Linked DNA regions of Homo sapiens: regions 1 and 3 are each linked to region 2. Evidence: fine-mapped expression QTL. A gene starts in region 2. Each other region holds a variant in brackets. All regions are shown on one strand. Distances are from middle to middle.

Evidence for each region. PIP is the estimated chance that this variant, and not a neighbour inherited with it, causes the effect.
Region 1: its variant is the best candidate, but not a certain one, in a credible set for the expression of TRPC4AP in cerebellum (GTEx, PIP 0.55).
Region 3: its variant is the best candidate, but not a certain one, in a credible set for the expression of TRPC4AP in unexposed skin (GTEx, PIP 0.57).

What each region holds. Positions count from the first base shown.
Region 1 is chr20:36,070,196-36,078,376 of GRCh38, reverse strand. It overlaps the pseudogene HMGB3P2. Among named protein-coding and RNA genes, the nearest start is that of NORAD, 23 kb to the right of the region's middle. The variant T/ATTTT (reference allele first, on the strand shown) is at 4,378.
Region 2 is chr20:35,088,941-35,097,121 of GRCh38, reverse strand. It overlaps TRPC4AP (transient receptor potential cation channel subfamily C member 4 associated protein), which reads left to right and starts at 4,315. Exons shown (of 19, transcript NM_015638.3): 1 at 4,315-4,508. The coding sequence starts at 4,341. RefSeq lists silencers at 651-780, 4,414-4,543 and an enhancer at 6,070-6,629.
Region 3 is chr20:35,032,480-35,040,660 of GRCh38, reverse strand. It overlaps TRPC4AP (transient receptor potential cation channel subfamily C member 4 associated protein), which reads left to right. Exons shown (of 19, transcript NM_015638.3): 8 at 5,353-5,538. Among named protein-coding and RNA genes, the nearest start is that of MIR499B, 46 kb to the right of the region's middle. The variant A/TTCTCTA (reference allele first, on the strand shown) is at 4,836.

The sequences.
Region 1 (8,181 bases), 980 kb before region 2:
GCAGTGGCTCGATTTCTGCTCACTGCAACCTCTGCCTCCCCGGTTCAAGTGATTCTCCTGCCTCAGCCTCCTGAGTAGCTGGGATTACAGGCGCACACCACCATGCCCAGCTAATTTTAAAAATATTTTTAGTAGAGACAGGGTTTCACCATGTTGGTGAACATGATGAGAACATTTCCAGGGGAAAACCATTTCCCTTCTGGCTCCCCAACTCCCCCATCTGCTGAGAGCTAGTTCTACTCAATAAAACCTTGCACTCATTCTCCAAGCCCACATGTGATCCAGTTCTTCCAGGTACAACAAGGCAAGAAACCCCAGGATACAGAAATCCCTCTGTCCTTGTGGTAAGGAAGGGGGTTTAATTGAGCTGGTTAACACAAGCCGCCTATAGATGGCAACCTAAAAGAGCACCCTATAACACACGCCCATTGGGGCTTCAGCTGTAAACATTCACCCCTAGACACTGCTGTGGGGTCGGAGCCCCACAGCCTGCCCATCTGTATGCTCCCCTAGAGGTTTGAGCAGCAGGGCACTGAAGAAGCAAGCCACACCCCCATTGCACACCCTTCGAGGGTTCCTGTTTCACCGTCTCTACAAAAAATTTTTAAATATTAGCCAGGTGTGGTGGTGTGTGCCTGTAGTCCTAGCTACCCAGGAGGCTGAGGTGGGAGGATCACTTGTGCCTGGGAGGTTGAGGCTGCAGTGAGCTATGATCCCAACACTGTACTCTGTCTCAAACAAACAAACAAAAATAAATACAAACGTTGTATGATTCCACTCATATGAAGTATCTAGAATAGGTAAATTCGTAGAGACAGAAATTAAAATAAATAGAGGTTACCAGAGGCTGAGGGAAGGGGAAAATGGGGAATGTTGTTTAATGGGTACAGAGTGTCTGTTTGGGATGATGAAAAAGTTCTGGAAATAGGAAGTGGTGATGATTACACTACTTTGTGAATGAACTTAATGTCACTGAATTGTATACTTAAAAATAGTTAAAATGGGTGAGGTGTGGTGGCTTACGTCTGTAATCCCAGCACTTTGGGAGGCCAAGGCTGGCAGATTACCTGAGATCGGGAGTTCGAGACCAGCCTGTCCAACATGGCGAAACCCCGTCTGTACTAAAAATACAAAAATTAGCTGGGCGTGGTGGCCCGTGCCTGTAATCCCAGCTACTCGGGAGGCTGAGGCAGGAGAATCGCTTGAAACCGGGAGGCGGAGGTTGTGGTGAGCCGAGATCGCACCACTGCACTCCAGCCTGGCGACAGAGGGAGGCTCTGTCTCAAAAAAAAAATTTTTTTTAAGTTTGCCGGGTGTGGTAGCTCACACCTGTAATCCCAGCACTTTGGGAGGCCGAGGCAGGCGGATCACGAGGTCAGGAGATTGAGACCATCTTGGCTAGCACAGTGAAACCCCGTCTCTACGAAAAATACAAAAAATTAGCCGGGCGTGGTGGCGGGTGCCTGTAGTCCCAGCTACTCGGGAGGCTGAGGCAGAAGAATGGCGTGAACCCAGGAGGCAGAGCTTGCAGTGAGCCGAGATCGCGCTACTGCACTCCAGCCTGGGTAACAGAGCGAGACTCCCTCTCAAAAAATAAAAAATAAAAAAAAAGTTAAAATGGGGCCGCCACCGCAGCGCCTGCAGAACTTTCGGGCCACGTCGCCGCCTCCTGCTGCTTCGCCTCCCAGGGCCCTCCCTCTCCTCCCCACGCCCTTCACTCCCCTCCGCCTTCCCTCCTGCTAGGCGGCCGGGAAGGAAGAAGAAATTCAGTCAGGATGGCTAAAGGTGACACCAAGAAACCAAAGGGAAAGATGTCTGCTTATGCCTTCTTTGTGCAGATGTGCAGAGAAGAACATAAGAAGAAAAACCCAGAGGTCCTTGTCAATTTTGCAGAATATTCCAGGAAGTGCTCCGAGAGGTAGAAGACCATGTCTGGGAAAGAGAAGTCTAAATTCAATGAAATGGCAAAGGCGGATAAAGTACACTATGATCGGGAAATGAAGGATTATGGACCAGCTAAAGGAGGCAACAAGAAGGATCCTAATGCCCCAAAAGGCTACTGTCTGGATTCTTCCTGTTCTGTTCAGAATTCTGCCCCGAGATCAAATCCACAAACCCTGGCATCTCTATTGGAGACGTGGCAAAAGAAAAAAAAAAGTTGGGTGAAATGTGGAATAGCTTAAATGACAGTGAAAAGCAGCCTTACTTCACTAAGGCGGCAAAGCTGAAGAAGTATGAGAAGGATGTTTCTGACTATAAGGCAAAAGGAAAGTTTGATGGTGCAAATGGTCCTGCTAAAGTTGCCCAGGAAAAGGTGGAAGAGGAAGATGAAGAAGAGGAGGAGGATGAGGAGGAATAAAGAAACTGTTTATCTGTCAAAAAATAGTTAAAATGATAAATTTTATGCTATGTATATTTTATCCATAAAAAAGTAAAGCTAAAGAATTAGGGAGCCCCTGCCAACTGGGAAATAAAAATTAAGCAGAAGCTGGGCACAGTGGCTCACACCTGTAATCCCAGCACTTTGGGAGGTCAAGGCAAGAGGATCATTTGATCCCAGGAGTTAGAGACCTGCCTGGGCAGCATAGTGAGACCCCCCCCCCCCATTTCTATAATTATAGAAATAAATAAAAATGTTAAAAAATTAAGCAGAGTAAAAACAAAAACACAAACACGATAACTAACAGTTGTATTCATTTCTTAGCTTATCTAAGAATAATTGGGAGCAAATTCCTTCAGATATTCCAAGATTGCTGGATTTACTTAGGATTCATCTATACTGTGTTGCTCATGATCTTCCCACATATTCGTGATCACTTTGAGTATGGGACACTAATTGTCTTCACCTTTAGCAGAGCAAAGAGCAAATGATAGGCAAATGTTCTTGGGGGGAAAAATGGAGGAACCAAAATACCCTTTTTTGAACAGGTATAGAACTCCCATCGGATTTATGTAGCTAAGCATAGAAGGTGGAGCTCAGTTCTCTGCTTCTAGTTGAGGACAGAATCAGCAGATATTGTGACAGAAGAGAATTAGATTGGTTAAGAGGAAACCTTCCTGGGAGTCCTTTTACCACTGTAGAATGAGAGGATTGGACCAGGAATATCTAACACCTCTCTACCTCTAACAGTACATGACTCTGTTTCTTAAAAAATGAATAGGAATTCACACTGGCCGAGTGCCTGTGGCTTGTATGGCACTGTGCCAAGTGCTTTTTTAGCTTTAGCTTACTCTACTCTCACGAGCCCAGGAAATTAGTATTGCAACCCCCATTTTATATACAAGGAAATAGGCTCAGGTAACTTACATAACTTATTCAAAATACCAGAGCTAGGAAGAAGCACAACTGAGGACCAAGGCCTGGGATGTCTGACTTCAAAGTCTTATGCTCCCTCTTAGGCTATGCTACAGAGTTTTCCTTTGTGGAGATATTTGGGAAGAGGAGAGAGTTGACTCTGGGCTACGGCCTGGGCCACCTCCTGCTCAAAAGCAGGATGCCAGCTGGGCGCAGGGGCTCACACCTGTAATCCCATCACTTTGGGAGGCTGAGGAGGGAGGATCACGAGGTCAGGAGTTCGAGATCAGCCTGACCAACATAGTGAAACCCCATCTCTACTAAACATACAAAAATTAGCCAGGTATGGTGGCACACACCTGTAATCCCAGCTACTCAGGAGGCTGAGGCAGGAGAATTGCTTGAACCCGGGAGGCGGAGGTTGCAGTGAGCTGAGATCGTGCCACTGCACTCCAGCCTGGGCAACAGAACGAGACTCTGTCTCAAAAAAAAAAAAAAAGCAGGATGCCTTGGAGCTGCTTCTCCCATCGTTATGTCAGAGCCAGGGACGGGGTGCTGCTGATACTGCCACTCCCCAGAAATTGAGCTGGAAACTCTGCCCATCAATCTTCAAAGCCCTTTGCAGGTGCTTACCTGCTCTTGTAAATCACAGGACCATTCATTTCCCAGGTGAAGAGGTTGCAGCCCTAAGAGAATAAAAGAGACTTGGCCAGGAAAGGACAGCACCCCTTGACAGAGGTTTTGAATCCACTTTCATCGTTTTGAATCCACTGACCTAGAATGGGAAGAAGAACAACAACAAAAAAACCAAACCAAGTTACAACGGAAAACACATTGATGTGGGTGAAGGATCTCATGCTTAGGCTTTACCAGAGGACATGCCAGAACAATTTCCCATCAGTCCTGGTCTTCTCGCCTCCAGTCCATTCCATACCTTGGTGGCCTGATTAGTACTCCCAAAGCACAACTTCAACAAGCGCACTCTCAGTTCAAGAGACAAGTTCAAACTCCACAACTTGGTATTTGAGGCCCTCCATGGTGCACCTCTCTCTCTCTCTTTCTTTTTATTTATTTATTTATTT[T/ATTTT]GGAGACAGAGTTTCGCCCTTGTTGCCCAGGCTAGAGTGCAATGGTGCAGTCTCGCTCACTGCAACCTCTGCCTCCCAGGTTCAAGCAATTCTCCTGCCTCAGCCTCCCAAGTAGCTGGGATTACAGGCATATGCCACCACGTCTGGCTAATTTTTTGTTTTCAGTAGAGACAGGGTTTCACCATGTTAATCAGGCTGGTCTCAAACTCCCGACTTCAGGTGATCCACCCACCTTGGCCTCCCAAAGTGCTGGGATTACAGGAGTGAGTCACCACGCCCAGCCACGCCTGGCTAATTTTTTATTTTGTGTAGAGACGGGTTTTCACTGTGTTGCCCAGGTTGGTCTTAAACTCCTGGGCTCAAGCAATTCTCCCACCTCAGCCTCCCAAAGTGCTGGGATTATAGGCGTGAGCCACTGCACCTGGCCTGTAGCTCTATTTTTAACTGTTACCACTCTTGAAGAGCTCCTAATCCTTCTCACTGTTCCCTATATGTGCCTCACCTTGTTCCACTACAGCAGACCTGGCAGACATGCCAGTTCTAATTTCCCTTCTTCCAGTAATAATCCCTCCCTTTTCTTCGGAGAACTCTTTGCCCTTCACTCAGAAGATAGACAGAACCCTATACCCTCCAACAGAATGTATCTTTCAGGCCACAAGGATTAATTCAAGTAGCCAAGATGGCCCCATTATAATATTCTTTGGGACTTTTCTGCTAAAGGTAGCAGGGAAGGCTGTCTCATTCTCCTCTGATCTCCCTTTTCTGGGCCTCTCTCTGGGCACCTAGCACTTTTTACCTTTTAATATGATTATTCTTATATTCTCTGTGAGACTGTCTCAACTACTGCTTTCTCCAAATGCTCAATTTTTTTTTTTTCTTTGAGACCTAGTCTCACTCTCTTGTCCAGGCTGGAGTACAGTGGCGCAATGTTGGCTCACTGCATCTCCGCCTCCTGGATTCTAGCAAGTCTCCTGCCTCAGCCTCTCTAGTAGCTAGGATTACCAGAGCATGCCACCATGCCCAGCTAATTTTTGTATTTTTAGTGGAGACATGGTTTCGCCATGTTGGCCAGGCTGGTCTTGAACTCCTGACCTCAGGTGATCCACCCACCTCGGCCTCCCAAAGTGCTGGGATTACACATGTGTGCCATCACACCCGGCCAAAATGCTTAATTTTAACAAGCACTTACTTTCTGTCTTATATGCAGATGTTGTGTTATACTCTAGGGATACAAGTTGGATAAGACATAGTCCCTTGTTGAATGGATGGATGAATAAAAATGCTCCTCTGGGCCTCACCCAGAAATCTGCCTGATACCCACTCTAAACAAAATAAAACAACTTATCACAGGGGATTTGAACAAAGGAAAATAAAAAATATAAAGTTCAAAATCATTAACCTGGCATCCAAGACCTTCTACAATCTGATTCTAATTTTGTCTACCTACCACACTCTTAGCTCTAGCCAAACTAAAGTGTTTTGTTGTCCTAGAAAACACTATGTCTCCACTTGCATGTTCGTTTGCCCAGGCTCTGGTTTTCTCCCATGGTTTCTTTTCCTGTTTTTCTCTCCCATTTGTACCTTCCTTATTCTCCATTTCATTCCACTCTTTTTCTTTCTTTTTTTTTTTTTTTTTGAGACAGGATCTCACTTTGTCACCCAGGCTAGAGTGCAATGGTGCCATCATGGCTCACTGCAGCCTCGACCTCCTGGGCTCAAGTGATCCTCCCACCTCAGCCTCCCTAGTAGCTGGGACTACAGGCATACACCACCATGTCCCGCTAATTTTTGTATTTTTGTAGAGATGGGGTTTTGTCATGTTGCCCTGGCTGGTCTTGAACTCCTGGCCTCAAGTCATCCACCTGCCTCAGCCTCCCAAAGTACTGGGATTACAGGAATAACCACTGCACTCAACCTCTTTCCTTCACTTTTACCTCCTCTCTCTCCCCTTTTCCTTCCTTTTCACTCTCCCTGAGCTTTCTTTCAATACTTCCCTCTATCACATCCTTACCTCTTAATTTTCCTCTCTCGTTTATTTCCTGACCTCCTTCCCTCTCCACCAGACTTGCCACTGCCCTCCATGATTGTGCACAGTCTCCTCCCTTTGTGGGCAAAAGACAGTATAAGCAATTGTAAGTAAGACAGCTTTTAGATCTCATCACAAGAAGCCCTCAGAGTGGGGTGGAAAGAAGAGGGGGAGAAACGGAAGGGGAAGAGATCTTAGTGGCAGAGAAGAAGCTGCCTGGAGACTGCAGGTGAATCCATGGAAGGCATCCTGCCAGTTATTTACCTCCAACCCACCCCCAGCTTTCCTTTCCTCCTTCTGATCAAAGAATTGGGAAAAATTAGAACTGCAAAAATCCTTAACATTTATTTACTCCACCTCCACAGTTTCGCAGCTGGGAAACTGAAGCATAGAAAAGGGAAACAACTAGCTAATGTCACCCAGCAAGTCAGTAGCTCAGCAGAAATGGAATCCCAGGCTTCCTGCCCCCCAGACCAGTTAAGTGTCCTTTCACCTATACAACACTTTTTTTGAGACGGAGTCTCACTCTTGTCGCCCAGGCTGGAGTGAAATGGCGCCATCTTGGCTCACTGCAACCTCTGCCTTCCGGGTTCAAGCGATTCTCCTGCCTCAGCCTCCTGAGGAGCTGGGATTACAGGCGCCCGCCACCATGCCTGGCTAATTTTTGTATTTTTAGTAGAGATGGGGTTTCACCATGTTGGCCAGGCTGGTCTCAAACCCCTGACCTCAAGTGATCCGCTTGCCTCAGCCTCCCAAAGTGCTGGGATTACAAGCATGAGCCACCGTGCCCAGCCTATACCACACTCTTAAACCTTCTTTCCTCTTGTTCCTAGTTCTTCCCCACTTACTGAACTCCTACTCCACCAGGTTTGGGATTATGTCTAAGGATTCCCAATCCCCCCCGCTAGTGAGTATAGGGGCCAGTGAAGTAGGGACAGAAGGGACAAACCACATCACTTCTAGCCTAAATCTTAGGCGCTTATTGAGTGGTGGCAGGGGATGGTGAAATGTCAATCTTGCCTGTAAGGGGCCAGTCTCCTCTTTGGAAAGCCCTGTTATAAGTGATCTGTATTGAGTTAGGGGATGCTGTGTTTCAGCTGGCCATCCTGCCAGGACCCCTCCTCACCCTTCCAGCCTAGCAGGCTGCCTAGAGACCCTATCTTACCCCGCCAGCTGCAGACTTAAAGCAGAGGCCACCCAGGCACAGGATGGTCTGTGGCTGCGGGAGGAGGTTGCTCGAGGCAGAGGGGAGGAAACGGTTTCCAGCAGCTCCGCTTTCAGTCTGCTCCTCCACTCTACAAAGGGCCACTGTCTGAGCACAGAGGGACCCTGGAGGGAGGCTTCCCAAGGTGCTCGGCAACAGGGCCGGGTTTCATCACACTGGGCCTCCAGGCCAAGTAAACATCAGAGTAGAAACAGGCCCAGCAGTTTCTGCAGACCAGCTCCTGGCTCCAGGCGGGCTCAGTGGCATCCTCACCCAGGGCTTTCCTGAGACAATAAGGAGGGCTAAGGTTATTGGCCCAATTTTATAGCTGCAGAAATAGAGAATGAGGAATGAGCTCTATCCAAGTTAATTTCCCATTACCCAAGAAGCAGACAAACATCCTACGTCCCTCTTAAGGAGCAGGAGTTTTTTACAATAACTTTTTTTTTTTTTTGAGATGGAGTCTCACTCTGTCACCCAGGCTGGAGTGCAGTGGCACTATCTCAGCTCACTGCAACCTCTGCCTCCCAGGTTCAAGCAATTCTCCTACCTCAGCCTCCCGAGTAGCTGGGAC
Region 2 (8,181 bases):
AAACTTCCCCAAAAATGCTGCGAGAATAATAAGATAGTGCAAAGAAAGTGCTTGGCCAATGGTAAGTGCTCAATAAAGGGTAGATCTTACCCAGAAGTATAAGCCCCATGAGGGCAGGAAATTTTGTTTATTTTATTTAGCACAATATCCACAGCACCTATAACAGTGCCTGGCACATAAGATAGTACTTAACAAACATTTAAAAGACAAATCATGGAGAGGTTGTACATTAGAAATGTAATGTAAAAAAAAATCACTGTAAAAAATGACACCACAGGACAATGCATAGTTGCATGGGACAGCTGTTACCATGGCCTGATATAACAGTGCCAGTTGCTTTGATTAAAGTGACTTCTTGGCAGGGTGCCATGACTCATGCCTGTAATCCCAGCACTTTGGGAGGCTGAAGCGGGAGGATTGCTTGAGCCCAGGAGCTTGGCGGCTGCAGTGAGCTATAATCACACCACTGTACTCCAGGCTGGGCCACAGAGCAAGACTTCAAAAAAAAAAAAAAAAAAAAAAGTCCCAGAAAATCTGTCTGCCCAATTGAGATGAGTTTGGCGATTTATTTACAAGAGTTAATGTTCTCTGAATAGCATCATCATGTTTGGTTAAGCCATTTGGGATTACGGTGGAAAAAAAATTAGCCAGTTTGGGAGCTTCATTTTTTTTCTAGTGCTGATTAAAATTGACATCAACAGACCTCTGGTGGGAGAGGTACTTCGCCCTCTGGTGGTGAGAGACACTCAGCTTTTTTTTTTTTTTTTTGAGACAGAGTCTTGCTCTGTGGCCCAGGCTGGAGTGCAGTGGCGCGATCTCGGCTCACTGCAAACTCCGCCTCCCGGGTTCAAGCAATTCTCCTGCCTCAGCCTCCAGGGCAGCTGGGACTACAGGCGCGCTTCACCCCGCCCAGCTAATTTTTGTGTTTTTGGTAGAGACGGGGTTTCACCATATTGACCAGGCTGGTCTCGAACTCCTGACCTCGTGATCTGCCCGCCTCGGCCTCCAAAAGTGCTGGGATTACAGGCCTGAGCCACCGCGCCTAGCCTCAGCTAGTTTCTACGGAAAAGGCTGGCAGAGCAGAGGTGAAGTGGAAAAGAGTGTCTTTCCACAGAGGTTTCTGGAAACATGTCCCCTTACTTCATGGTCACATGGTATCTGTAAGGACTGAATTTGAGGTTGTCATTTTTGACCCAGTGAATACCCAGCTTTGGTGAATGCCTGGGCCAGGCTAGACTGACAAAGATAGGAACTGAGGAATGGAAAGTGACATTTGCAGTTGGGTCAAAGCTGAGGTGGGAAGATTTGTCCCTAGCATGATGAGTGCCAAGGGAAACCTGGAGGGCCATGTGAACTGTGAAATTAGTCAGGATCCTGTCTCCTCACCGCGACAAGGGTGAGAATATCCATCACCATATGCCTCAGGAAGAGCTCTGGGTGGAATCCCTGGGCTGTGGATTCCCTGGTAAGGCTGGCTGCTGCCCGGACAGCTCACCAATGCCCTGTTTGTATCCCTGGAAATGCCTTTTCTTTTTATGTCTTTTTAAAGTTAATTTCACATATTAGAAGACTTTTTTTTCTTGAATCTAGAAATGATACATAGCTGGTGCAAAAAGTTATGAAAAGTATTGTTATTGAACCAAAGTGAGGGCTGCTTACCTGGTGCAGCAAAGCCACTGACATTGGGATTACAGCAAGAGAAAGTGAGGCATTTATTATTGCACTTGCTGCAGGGTGCCAAGCGAGGAGAATCAAACAGCTTATGCTTAAGACCTGAACTCCCTTATGGCTTACAGGGGTTTTATTTTATTTTTTTGAGACAGAGTCTTGCTCTGTCGCCCAGGCTGGAGTGCAGTGGTGCAATCTCAGCTCACTGCAACCTCTGCCTCCTGGGTTCAAGCGATTCTCCTGCCTCAGCTTCCCGAGTAGCTGGGATTACAGGCACGTGCCACCATGCCTGGCTAATTTTTGTATCTTTAGTAGAGACGGGGTTTTGCCGTTTTGGTCAGGCTGGTCTCGAACTCCTGACCTCAGGTGATCCACCTGCCTCGGCCACCCAAAGTGCTGGGATTATAGGTGTGAGCCACCGCGCCCAGCCGGCTTACAGGTTTTTAATGGCAGGAGGGCAGAGGCCACAGGCGAAGTCATAAATCAATACATAGGGGCTGTATATTGGTTCCACCTAAAAAGACAGGACATCTCCAACCAGGGGCCCACAAGTGGATTCAAAGATTTTCTGACTTGTAATTGGTTAAGGAGGTAAAGCTTTGTCTAAAAATTTGGGATCTGCAGAAAAGAATGTTAGCTCTGACTTATGGTCGTGTCCTCCTCCAGGCCCCCTAGGAAGAAATTTATAACAAAAAATAGAAGTCAAAGTTTAGTTCTCAGCTCTCCCTTATCTGAGTTTGCCTATCAGCAGATCCATTTGGTGGGGGTTCGAGTTTCTAAGAAACAACACTCAGGGACAAATTTTAAGATGTTATATTCAGTTTCTATAGGGAACAAAATATCTCCTGACTGTAACTTCTTTGGCTATTTTTTTTTTTTTTTCTGAGATGGAGTCTCATCCTGTCATCAAACTGGAGTGCAGTGGCGTGATCTCGGCTCACTGTGACCTCTGTCTCCAGGGTTCAAGTGATTCTCCTGCCTCAGCCTCCCAAGTAGCTGGGACTACAGGTGCATGCCACCACGCCCAGCTAATTTTTGCATTTTTAGTAGAGATGGGGTTTCACCATGTTGGCCAGGCTGGTCTCGAACTCCTGACCTCATGATCTGACTACCTCGGCCTCCCAAAGTGCTGGGATTACAGGTGTGAGCCACTGGGATTACAGGTGTGAGCCACTGCACCCGGCTGAGTTTATTTTTGTATAATGTGAGAGATGAGGATCCAGTTTCATTCTTCTGCATGTGGCTTGCCAGTTATCACCAGCTGTTGAATAGGGTGTCCTTTCCCCACTTTATGTTTTTGTTTGCTTTATCGAAGATCAGTTGGCTATAAGTATTTGGTTTTATACTGTGTTCTCTATTCTGTTCCATTGGTCTATGTGCCTATTTTTATACCAGTACCATGCTGTTTGGGTGACTATGGCCTTATTGTATAGATTGAAGTCAGGTAATGTGATGCCTCCAGATTTATTCTTTTTGCTTAGTCTTGCTTTGGACATGCAGGCTCTTTTTTGGTTCCATATGATTTTTAGGATTCTTTTTTCTAGTTCTATGAAGATGGATGGTGAGTCTACTCCTTTTAGATGGGGTGTGAGGATGGTAACCATAGTGCCAGTTCACCTGGGAGAGTCACTTTTATGCCTACCGTCCCGGTGTAATTATTTATTGTGTCTTTTCATTCTTTAAAGTGTTCTGGTTTGAGCAGTAAGTTACAGTCATCTTAGTTATGAGTCACAATCTTCACCATTCCCTGTTACATCACACTTAGCTCTCCTCTTTCATTTTTATTACAGGCCCCCTGCTAGGAAGGGAAAAAGTGTGTGTGTGTTGGGTGGGGGGAGTCAGTGCCATCCTGCCACAGAAGTTAGCTGAAAAAATGAGTATTAGAGACAACATGCTATCTGGTGGATAGAAATTAGGACAGGGTTTTCATCTGACAGAGAATATGATGTCACAATTTACTAATCCCTTTCCCTTCCATTATTTAATTTCACAACAACCTACCCAGTTACACAACTTATCCAGTTTGAGACTGCGTTTCTTTGTGTATGGATCTGCTGTCTTCCCCTGTAACCTGCATTTCGTGATAAAGGATCCCAGGCCGTTCTGCTCACCACTGTATCCCAGACACCCTCCCTTTCCCCTAGACATGGTTTGGTGTCGGGCGCAGAGAAAGCCCCAGGAACTACGATTGATCAGGCTCCCAGAATCTATAGATGGAGTGACCTGACGAGGACACAGGCGCAGTGGCAGAGCGCGATGACTTGGTCGATGTCCGCGGTGAGTCACGTGTAGAGAGAAGCAGGCAGGAAGCGGACTCGAGGGCCTGACTCCTGACCTGAAGCCCAGGATCATTTCTTGGCCAGCTGCCTGCATCCTGCCCAAATCGGCGAGAGAAATGGGAGAATGTGGACCTTGGGAGATTTCGCCGAAATGCTGGGCCCGGGGGCCAGAGAAACCGGCAGTGCAGGAAAGGCCACATCTCTTTTCCCACCTACCCCGCTGCCGCGCAGGACTACAATTCCCAGTAGCCTCCACGCCGCACACGGTCCCTGCCACGCGGCTTGCGCCTCCGCCGACGGCCCACTGGGGGCGCTGCGGCGACCCCTCCGCCGCCCCGTAGAAATCTCCGCGGCCCCGAGGCCGCTTGCTTCCTGTTTGTCCGACGAGGAGACATGGCGGCGGCGCCGGTAGCGGCTGGGTCTGGAGCCGGCCGAGGGAGACGGTCGGCAGCCACAGTGGCGGCTTGGGGCGGATGGGGCGGCCGGCCGCGGCCTGGTAACATTCTGCTGCAGCTGCGGCAGGGCCAGCTGACCGGCCGGGGCCTGGTCCGGGCGGTGCAGGTACGAGGCTGGACCAGGAGGGGCGGGGCGGGGCGGACCAGGCGGGAGCTGGCGGGGGGCCGGGGAAGAGGCCTTTCCAGGCCGCCGCTGGACGGGCCAAAGCCCTTTTGGCTGGCCGGAAGGCCTCCCTGTGAGCTGCCCGGACGCTCTCAGCTGCAGCGGGGCCGTGGGAAGCAGCTGGCTTGATGTCCCTTGTCAGGGGCCGAGCGGGGCTGGGCTGCTGTGGACACTGATGGCGTGTACGAACCCTGGGCCCAGTTTCTGGATCCTCCCTTCTTTGCGCCACGTCTACACGTCTGGGGGACCCTGTCGTGTTTGTTTTAGCCTCTGTGGGCCTCGAGTTTATCCCGTGTATTGGGCGTGGGGGAGGGGGTCATCATTGCAGCCCCCAAATGGTTCCCGAGCATTTCATAAATGTCATTTTCTCAGGCCTTTCCTTGACACTCTTTCCTTCCCCTTTCTAAAGTAGGTCCCCATTGTTATTCTGTCACAGCCGCGAATTCGTTTCGTTTACATTACTTTCTTAGTCTATAATTTCGTATTTCTTTGTTGTCTGCCTTTTTCTCGCCCGTCTCCCACATTAGGCTGAGTTCCAGCGGGTGCAGAGACTATATCTGGTTTGCTAGTGTAGAGCGTCACGGTTAAGAGGGACTCTGGAGTCAGGCCTGGGTTCAAAGCCCTGCTCCTCTCTCTTGCTTGGGCAGGTGACCTTTCTGTGCCTCAGTTTCCTCACTTGTAAGATGAAGATGAGAATTAGTAACCTACCTTTTAAGATTGTTGTGGAGATCAAAGGGGGCAATTGTGTAAAGCATTAGTGCATTTCTGGTGCATACTAAGGGCTGAAGGTAGTTAATATTAAGCATCTGACTTATAACAGGTGCCCAACATATGATTATTGTTATTTTTGAGTGAGCGAAGGACACTGCTTTAGGGTAAACCAGGTTGAATAGGACCTAGTCCACTACTTCTTCCACCCTCCCCCACCCCGAACCTTGCTAACACCTGTAAAACATTAGCTTTATTTAAAGACAGCTTTTTCATAAAAAGTTTGAAGGATACTCAAGAAACTGATAAAGTGGTTGGTGGGAGTGAGGTGGGAATTGGGCTAAAGGGGGAGAAAATGGGAGTGAGACTTTTCACAGTGTAACTTTATTTAAATTTAATTTGAATATCACTTCCTCAAATGACGAAAAGGATAGAATAAAATAAAGGCTAGGGGGTCTGTGTGTATGGAGGACTGTGGACGAAAGGAGCAGTTGTGAGTGAGAAATGTTTTCCTGGCCATCACACAACCATAGATGAGCAGCCTTTTTCCCCCTTGTGTTCTTAAGACCTGACTTAAGACCCTGTAATCCCAGCACTTTGGGAGGCCGAGGCAGGCAGATCGCTTGAATCCAGGAATTCGAGACCAGCCCAGGCAACACGGCAAAATCCTGTGTCTCCAAAAATTTAGCCGGGCATGGTGGTGGTGTGTGCCTGTGGGGAGGCTGAGGTGGGAGGATTACCTGAGCCTGGGAGGCGGAGATTGACAGAGTGAGACCCTGTCTCAAAAAAAAAAAAAAATCCTAGAAATACTTGCTCTTTCCTTCTTAAGCTAAGATACCTTACCGAGCTGGGTGTGTAGAGACAGGCAGAAAGAGGACTAACTTTTAGTGAGCACATAACCTTTAGAAAAAGTACGGTACAAGGCATATGTTATCTTTAATCCTCAAGCTTTTGAGTTATGCTTCAAGACTCATTTCTTAATATGGATGAGGAAACTGAGGCTCAGAGAGGTTAGATGATATGTTCCTAAACACCCATCCTGATAATCAGTGTTCTGAGAATAATAGGGAGCCACAGAAGTTCTTTAGCATGATAAATGAGGCAATTTAGGCAACTTAATTTGTTTCCAGTGCTGAATGACTTAGAATGGGAGGAGCCTAGAAAAGCCCACCAGAGGCTGGGCACAGTGGCTCATTCCTGTAATCCCAGTGCTTTGGGAGGTCGAGGCGGGTGGATCATCTGAGGTCAGGAGTTTGAGACCAGCCTGGCCAACATGGCGAAGCCCCGTCTCTACTAAAAATACAAAAATTAGCCGGGCGTGGTGGTAAGCACCTGTAATCCCAGCTACTCTGGAGGCTGAGGCAGGAGAATTGCTTGAACCTGGGAGGTGGAGGTTGTGAGCTGAGATCACGCCACTGCACTCCAGCCTGGGTGACATAGTGAGACTTCATCTCAAAAAAAAAAAAAAAAAGCTCACCAGATACAAGGCTGCTGGAATATTCTGGAGCCACAAAAGCAAGGCAGGTTATTGTGGTAACTGATGGTTGTATATAGGTGTGGGAGCTATTTCAGAAGTTGAAGTAGAGACCCCCTGCCTGGAGCTATAGTGAGGATAAAATGGGGACCTTCATCTTTCAAATATTTCTTTTCTTAGTTTTTTTTTTTTTTAATTTATTCCATGCTGTGCCCTTCCGCTCCTCTCTCCCATCCTGCAGAATAAGTTATTTGCTTACCCTTTTTTTTTTTTGAGACAGAATCTTGCTCTGTCACCCAGGCTGGAGTGCAGTGGCAAGCTCAACTTCCTGGGCTCAAGTGATCCTCCCACCTTAGCCTCCCTAGTAGCTGGGACTACAGGCGTGTGCCACCACACCCCATTAATTTTTGTATCTTTGGTAGAGACAGGGTTTTGCTCTGTTGCCCAGATTACCCATATTTTTATACTGTTATGGCATGTGGTATAGTAGGAAAAGACCAGATTTAAACATTTTTTATTTTTTATTTTTTAGACGGAGTCTCGCTCTGTTGCCCAGACTGGAGTGCAGTGGCGCAATCTCGGTTCACTGCATCCTCCGTCTCCCGGATTCAAGCAATTCTGCCTCAGCCTCCTGAGTAGCTGGGATTACAGTCGTGTGCCACCACACCTGGCTACTTTTTGTATTTTTAGTAGAGATGGGGTTTCACCATGTCGGTCAGGCTGGTCTCCAACTCCTGACGTCATGATCCCCCTGCCTTGTCCTCCCAAAGTGCTGGGATTACAGGTGTGAGCCACTGCGCCTAGCCAAAATTTTTTCATTGTAGTAAACAAATATATAATATAGGCCAGGTACATTGGCTCATGTGTGTAATCCCAGCACTTTGGGAGACCAAGATGGGATGATCACCTGAGCCAGTTTGAGTCAAGCCTGGGCAGTGTGGTGGAGCCCCAGCTCTACTACAAAAAAAAAAAAAAAAAACATTAACCAGGTGTGGAAATGCATGCCTGTAGTCCCAGCTGCTCAGGAACCCGAGGTGGGAAGATCGCTTGAGCCTGGCAAGTCAAGGCTGCAGTGAGCCATGATCACACCATTACACTGCAGCCTGGGCAACAGAATGAGACCCTGCCTCAAACTATATACATATATAAATATATATATGTAAACATAAAATTTACCATCTTAACCATTTATAAGTGTATAGGTCAGGCCCAGTGTGGTGGCTTACACCTGTAATCCCAACACTTTGGGAAGCTGAGGTGAGCGGATTGTTTGAGCCCAGGAGTTTGAGACCAGCCTGGGCAACATGGTGAAACCCTGTATCTTAAAAAAAAAAGGTGTATAGTTAAGTAATGTGAAGTATATTCCCATTGTTGTGAAACAGATTTCCAGAACTTTTTCATCTTGCAAATCTGAAACTACCATTGAACAACTTC
Region 3 (8,181 bases), 56 kb after region 2:
TTGCACTCCAGCCTGGGCAACGAGTGAAACTCCGTCTCCAAAAATAAATAAATAAAATAAAAGATAAGCCGTCTGCAAGCTGGAGAACCTGAGAAGCCATTAGCATGGCTCAGTCCAAGTCCGGAAAACTTAGAACCAGGAAAGCTAATGGTGTAGCTCCCCGGCTGGAGGACCCCAGAAACTGCTGGTGCAAGTCTCAGAGACCAAAAGCCAAAGATCCTGGAGTCTGATATCCAAGAGCAGTAGGAGAAAAACTTCCCACTCCAGAAGGGGGAGAATCCCTTTTTGTTTTCCTCCATCGCCTCCCACTGCTCCCCCACCAATTGGATGGTGCCTGCCCACATTGAGGGCAGATTTTCCCTTAGTTCACACACTCATACACCAATCTCTTCTGGAATCACCTTCACAGACACACCCAGAAACAGTGCTGTGCCAGCCATGTAGGCATCCCATAGTCCAGTCAAGTTGACAGCTAAAATTAACCATCACACCACCGCATTCCCTAAAGGGCCTGTTTCAAAACGCAGTCATATTTAGGGCTAGAGCTTCAACGTATGAATTTGTGGGGGCGCGGGGGGTGGGGACACAGTCCATAACTGTATGGAAAGCTGAAATATGTAGGATGTTGCCAAAAAGTTTTCGTTTCGTTTTTAATAAACTGTGGCTGTGAGGTCATTTTCTTGTCTAGCAAAAATAATGATTTACACTATCTTCCTGGGGCTCAGATAATTTACATGTAATTATCTAATGTAAATTATCTGAGCCCCAGGAAGATAGCGTAAGTCATTATTTTTTGAGATTCATTTTAAAATAAATAATTATTTTTTGAGTCCTTTTTGAGATTCTCAGAACTACCAGTTGTTCTTCTGTCGATTTAGAAGAGAACAGCTGGTTTCCTTCTGGGGGAAAGTAACGTCTTTCAAGATTCTTAGCAGAGATGTAAATGAAGCTATAGGCTAGATAATTGTCAATTTATAAGTGACACTTAGCTGAGAGGGGCTGAATTATGCAGCACATGAAGCTGGAAAGCAGGAGGGGAAACTACAGGAGTATGGGGGGAATACTGATGTTTCAACAGTGAGAAGAGAGAAGAGGCCTGCTTCTGCAGAAATTCTCAGGGGTTGTGAGTGATTTAGTTGTCAGTTTAACATTAACCAGCCAGGTGTGGTAGCTACTGATAAAGCTGTGAGAATTACAAGGACTGGATATGCTGGGATGTCAGCCCATGAGATTGTGTATGAGTTGCTAGGTATGATTGGTCCAGTGAATTTTTTTCTGGGGAGAAGGTCTTAGCTTTTATTAGCTTTTCAAGAGGTGAGTGACTCACAACAGCTCAAGAATCTCAGGTGGGAAGTCAGACTTAGAACCCTGAGTACCGGGCACTTCCCATCTGGAGGAGTGTGTTGAGTGTGCAGGAATGGGGAAGACTAGCTCCTACATGCTGTCCTGAGAGGAGCAGGTCAAGCAGCAGGAGCTATTTTTGCTGAGAACAGAAGTATAAGAGTAAAAATCCAGCTATGTGAAGATTTTCATGTAGAATACAAATTCTTTTTATTTCTTTTTTGTTTTTTTTGCTTTGTTTTATTTTGAGACACAGTCTGGCTATGTTGCCCAGGCTGGAGTGTAGTGGCACAATCTTGGCTTACTGCAACCACCACTTTCTGGTTCAAGCGATTCTCGTGCCTCAGTCTGCGAAGTAGCTGGGACTACAGGCATGCGCCACCAGGCCCGACTAATTTTTTTGTATTTTTAGTAGACATCGGTTTTGCCATATTGGCCAGGCTGGTCTTGAACTCCCAAACTCAGGTGATCCACCCACCTCGGCCTCCCAAAGTGCTGGGATTACAGGCATGGGCCACCATGCCCCGCCTACTGATTTGTTTTTAGAAAAAATAATACACACCTAAAATTTTTTTTAAATGATACAAAAAGTACAGCAGAGAGTTTGTTCCCCTCCCTGTGGTAACTTTTTACCAGTTTCTTAAACGTCCTTCGAAAAATATTCTATACATGCCCAATCATGGGACGGGGGAAGGAGGGAGGGACAGAGAGAGATTGACTCCTGTTTGTACAGATGGTAATGTAAATAGGTAATATAAAATAAGTGCTGCTCTCTTTTTATTAAACTTATCTTGCCAAAAATTACACTCTAGTATATATAGAATTATATGATTCCTTTTTGTAATTATATAATATTCTATTATACAGGCATACTGTAATTTAATTAGTCCCCCATTAATGGAAATTGGTAAGTGTTGACAAATTAACCCTCCAAAGAAATTACTTGTTCATCTTCCCCACCGTGTTGTCTGTAGCCTTTCCCAGTACAGAGCATTATCAAACTTTTTTATATTTGCCAAGCTGATATGTTAAAAAAAAAAATGGTGTCTCAAACAAAAATCTATTTCTGTGTAATTATTTTATGGAGATGGAAGTCACGTAACATAAAATTAGCCGTCTTAAAGTGAACAACTCAGCGGCATTTAGTACATTTACAGTGTTGTGCAGCTACCACCTCTATCTAGTTGCACGTTTTCATCACCCCAAAAGGAAACGCCGTACACATTAAGCAGCTTCTTCCCATTACCCCTTCTCCCCAACTGCTGGCAACCACCATTCTGCTTTTTTCTCTGTGGATTTACCTATTCAGATTACTTCATATACAGTCATGTTGTCACTTAGCAGTCTCTATCCTTCTGAGAAATGCAGTGAGGTGATTTTGTCATTGTGTGAATGTCATAGAGTGTACTTGCACAAACCTAGCTGGTATAGCCCATGATACACTTAGGCTGCAAACCTGTACAGCATGTTTCTGTACTAAATACAGTAGGCAGTTGTACCATAATGGTAAGTATTTGTGTATCTAAACATAGAAAAAAGGTATAGTAAAAATACAGTATTATAATCTGATGGCACCACCGTCTTCTGTGTGGTCGTTGTTGACCGCAACAGCGTTAATGCAGTGCATAACTGTAAATGGAATCATATAGCATGTGGCCTTCTGAATCTGGTTTCTTTCACTTGGCATAATGTTTTTGTGGTTCATTAATGTTGTAGCATGTCAGTACTTCATTCCTTTATATGGCTGAATAATACTCATCATGTAGATACCACAGTTTGTTTATCCCTTCAGTTAATGGACATTTGGGATATTTTCATCTTTTGGCTGTTGGGAATAGTGCTGCTATGAACATGTGTGTACACATATTTGTGTGTGCACCTGTTTTCAATTCTTTTGGGTATATATGTAGGAGTGAAATTGCTGGGTCATATGGTAATTTTATGTTTGACTTTTTTTTTTTTTTTTTTTTTTTGAGACAGAGTCTCGCTCTTTCGCCCAGGCCGGAGTGCAGTGGCGCGATCTCCGCTCACTGCAAGCTCTGCCTCCTGGGTTCACGCCATTCTCCTGCCTTAGCCTCCCAAGTAGCTGGGACTACAGGCGCCTGCCACCGCGCCCAGCTAATTTTTTGTACTTCTTAGTAGAGATGGGGTTTCACCGTGTTAGCCAGGATGGTCTCGATCTCCTGACCTTGTGATCCACCCGCCTCGGCCTCCCAAAGTGCTGGGATTACAGGCGTGAGCCACCGTGCCTGGCCAACTTTTTGAGGAACCTCAATGTAGTTTTATTTTATAACTAAGGTCAAACATCATCTTATAGCCACTCACTAATTATGGGAGGGGTGTGTGTGTGTGTGTGTGTTTGTGTGCGCACGCGTTGAGACAGAGTATCACTCTTGCCCAGGCTGGAGTACAGTGGTGCAGTCTCAGCTCACTGCAACCTCTGCATCCCAGGTTCAAGCAATTCTCATGCCTCAGCCTCCTGAGTAGCTGGGACTACAGGCGCACGATACCACGCCTGGCTAATTTTTGTATTATTGGTAGAGATGGAGTTCGCCATGTTGACCAGGCTGGTCTTAAACTCCTAGCTTCAAGTGATCCACCCACCTTGGCCTCCCAAAGTGCTAGGATTACAGGCATGAGCCACCGTGCCTGGCCAGCTTGTCTTACTTTATCTCTACTCCCATTCACTATACCCTACTTCACCTTGGGTTATTTTGAAGTAAACCCCAGACATCGTATAATTTCACCTGCATATATTTCAGTGTTTCTACATGATAACGACTTTTAAGAAACGTAACTGCCACTGTATCAAAAATTAATAGTAATCCCTTGATATCCTGAAATATCTAGTTATTTATTAATTTTTAATTAGGTGTAACATTCACATGGTTCCAAAAAATCTGCGGATTCAAAAAGGTATTTATTGAAAAGTTTCAGTTCCACTGTTACTCTCAGTGACCTAAATCCCCTTTTCCACTTGACGGACATTTTGGCTGTTTCCATCTTATGGCTGTTTACTGTGGCAGCCACTGCTCTTGGCTTCTTTTCTGTCCTTCCAGGGAGACTTAATGCATATACAGGCAAACATGATCAGGCATTAGTCTCATTTTAAAGAAGGTTAAATGATGGAGTCAGGATTTGAATCTGGATCTCCCTGCCTCCAAAGTTTATGATGTTCTAATATGCCGATCAGAATTTCCACCTCACTCATTGTGAATAAAATGAGATTGGTGGAAAGAAAAATTGGGTGATTATTCAGTTTTTTTCTTTACCTTAAAAAAATGTTTATCTTTCATCCTGCTAGTAAATGTTACAGGAAAATTAGAAACTATAGATGAGTAATTTTAAGAGAATTGTTTGTATTCTCTCCTGCTTAGGAACAGCCACAGTAAATTCCTTGGTATATATGCTTTCATTCCTTGTGTATTTTGAAGAAGCAAATATTTAAATTTTTGAAGAAAATTAAATTCATATTGTTTAATAATTTACTCTCT[A/TTCTCTA]ACAAGTAAACAGCTGTTTTGAGTCACTATATAAAGATGTATGTGTCATCATTCTTAGTGTCTATGCAGTATTCCATTGTATAAATGTGTCATTGTATTTAATTAATCAGCTGTTGATGAACATTTAGTTACCTTCACCTTTTTGCTGTTACAGAAACCACATCAGTGAACCTCCTTATACAGATATTCTCGTGTAATATGACTGGTTATTTCGTTATGGTAAATTCCCAGAAATTGACCTCTTGGCTCAAAGACACACACATTTAAGGCATAAAGATTATTCTAATTTATATTCCCAGTAGATAAAAAGCCTGTTTCCCTGTACCTGCTAAAAACTGAGCTTATGCCTGTAACATAATTACTATTTACCTTGGTTTGACATTCATTTTAAAAGAGTAGCTTTAGCTACTATCAGAGTAAGAATTATTCCTATCATGCAGATTGTTTGTTAGGGCTTTAGGGGTAGTTTTGCTGGTCTCTATTTTGAAAATTTCCTCGCTTGTTCTTTCCCTGGCAGCGGCCCTTCTCAGCATTCCTGGCTTTGTTGAGCGGCTTTGCAAACTGGCGACTCGAAAGGTGTCAGAGTCAACGGGCACAGCCAGCTTCCTTCAGGAGTTGGAAGAGTGGTACACATGGCTAGACAATGCTTTGGTGCTAGATGCCCTGATGCGAGTGGCCAATGAGGAGTCAGAGCACAATCAAGGTATGGAAGGATGGGTCCCCTGAGTGATCGGGAGCTTTTCCTTGGGCGCCTGGGACCATTCTTGCTCTTCTTTCCAAGAAGGATTAATTTGAGATTTGCTCAGAGTAGAATTGTCCTCAAGGCAATTCTAGACCATGACTATTAAGACTCTTTTGACAGCTTGTTACAGAAACTTCATTGAACTCCCCAAAGTGGACCTGATTTCAGGGAGAAGGGCTTTGTTGCAGACCTGAGACAGCTGTGTCTCAGGGACTAACAAGAACCAGTAACCAGAGCATTCTTAGGAACCTAGAAACTTCTCTCCTCGTCTCTTTTTCTTTCTACAGTGTTTCTTAGTCTTCTCTCTCACTGTACCCTACCTTTTCCTGGTCCCCTTGATGGGACTAGGCAGAAGACTGCCTATTAAATAAGAAGACTCCCAGTCTCAGCTCCAGCTTCCTGGTAAAGAACTCTGGCCCATCTTTGGTTAGGTGCCCAGCCTTAAAGCATTTGACTCTGGCCAGCAGGTTCAGAATATACAAACCCAGGAATTCTCAGCTCCCAAACAAGGAATAGGTTTCTCATTGGGAGTGGGGGGCCATCAGCTTTTCTTCTTCCCTCCAGCTCCAAATTGAAGAGACTAAGTTCTCGGTGAGTATGGCAAAGAGGTCAGAGGCTTCCTTCCTCCACCCAGCTCCATACTGTACTCACGGTGTGGAAGCTCTATCCCACATACTTGAGGCCAAGAATTCTATGGCTCTGATCACCTTTGCCCTAGCTTGCTCATGTACAGAGGTTTTACACTGGGAGAGGCAAGCCCGGAAGACTAGAGGCTACTGACCCTGCTCTGAGAATTTGCCCACAGAGAGAGGCAGTTAATAAGAACAGAGTCCAGGGAAGTTCATGCCTGAGGAGATTTTGATGGTAAGCAAATAAAAAGAGGTACCTCTTCTTTTTTTTTACTCTTTTTTTTTTTTTTTTTTTTTTTTTTTGAGACGGAGTCTCGCTCTGTCGCCCAGGTCGGACTGCGGACTGCAGTGGCGCAATCTCGGCTCACTGCAAGCTCCGCTTCCCGGGTTCACGCCATTCTCCTGCCTCAGCCTCCCGAGTAGCTGGGACTACAGGCGCCCGCCACCGCGCCCGGCTAATTTTTTGTATTTTTAGTAGAGACGGGGTTTCACCTTGTTAGCCAGGATGGTCTCGATCTCCTGACCTCATGATCCACCCGCCTCGGCCTCCCAAAGTGCTGGGATTACAGGCGTGAGCCACCGCGCCCGGCCTTTACTCTTTTATTTTTTATATTTTCTCTTTTTTGAATAGAGACGGGTTTTGCCATGTTGGTCAGGCTGGTCTCAAACTCCTGGCCTCAAGTGATCCACCCTCCTTGGCCTCCCAGAGTGCCAGGTTTATAGGCATGAGCCACTGTGCCTGGCCAGGTACCCTCTTCTTAATTAAGAACAGGGTGATCTACAGGCCAGCTAGTTCACCAGAGAACCAGGGAAGGAGACAGCTGAGAAGAACTCTCCCAAGGTCAGAACAAAGCTCAATTTCAAAAATTACCCCTTCCTGAATTTAATTGAATTAGACTTTGGAGCAGTGTATACTCCAGGGCATTATCAAAAACAGTCGAGAATTCAGTCAGCAGTTAGTAGAGCCTAACAGCTGGATGTGATACCAGAAGAGGTAGAAAGCTTAACAGAGAGATCATGGAAAGAGCTAGTCAAAGACAGCCTGGCTCAATGTCATCCCAGGGAGACTCTGTACATGCCCAAGGTTGCACTCTCTGAGGCACAACATGAAAATCTTCACCAGTCTTTGGGGAAGGAGACTTTACGAAAATAGTCTAACCAAGTCACTAAACTAATAAATAAGCAAATAACAACAACAAACCCTGAAGGAGGGGGAATCAGTATCCAGAGTTGCTACAGTATATTACTTAAAATGTCCTTTTTTGAGATGGAGTCTCTTGTCGCCCAGGTTGGAGGGCAGTGGCACAATCTCGGCTCACTGCAACCTCTGTCTCCCATGTTCAAGCAGTTCTCTCTCAGCCTCCCGAGTAGCTGGGGTTACAGGTGCATGCCACCACACCCGGCTAATTTTTTGTATTTTAGTAGAGAAAGGATTTTACCTAGTTGCTGGTATTGAACTCCTGAGCTCAGGCAATCCACCCACCTTGGCCTCCCAAAGTGCTAGGATTACAGGCGTGAGCTACCACACCCAGCCTAAAATGTCCAGTTTTTAACAAAAATTGAGACATACACACAAAAAACAGGAAGTGTAACCTATACACAAGAAAAAGCAGGCAACAGAAATTTCCTGTGAAAGGGTCCAGATACCAGATTTAACAGCAGCCATTAAAAATATGATCAAAGGGCTGGGCGCGTTGGCTCACACCTGTAATCCCAGCACTTTGGGAGGCTGAGGCGGGCGGATCACGAGGTCAGGAGATCGAGACTATCCTGGCTAAGACGGTGAAACCCCGTCTCTACTAAAAATACAAAAAATTAGCTGGGCGTGGTGGCAGGCGCCTGTAGTCCCAGCTACTGGGGAGGCCTGAGGCAGGAGAATGGCGAGAACCTGGGAGGCAGAGGTTGCAGTGAGCCGAGATCCTGCCACTGCATTTCAGCCTGGGCGACAGTGCGAGACTCTGTCTCAAAAAAAAAA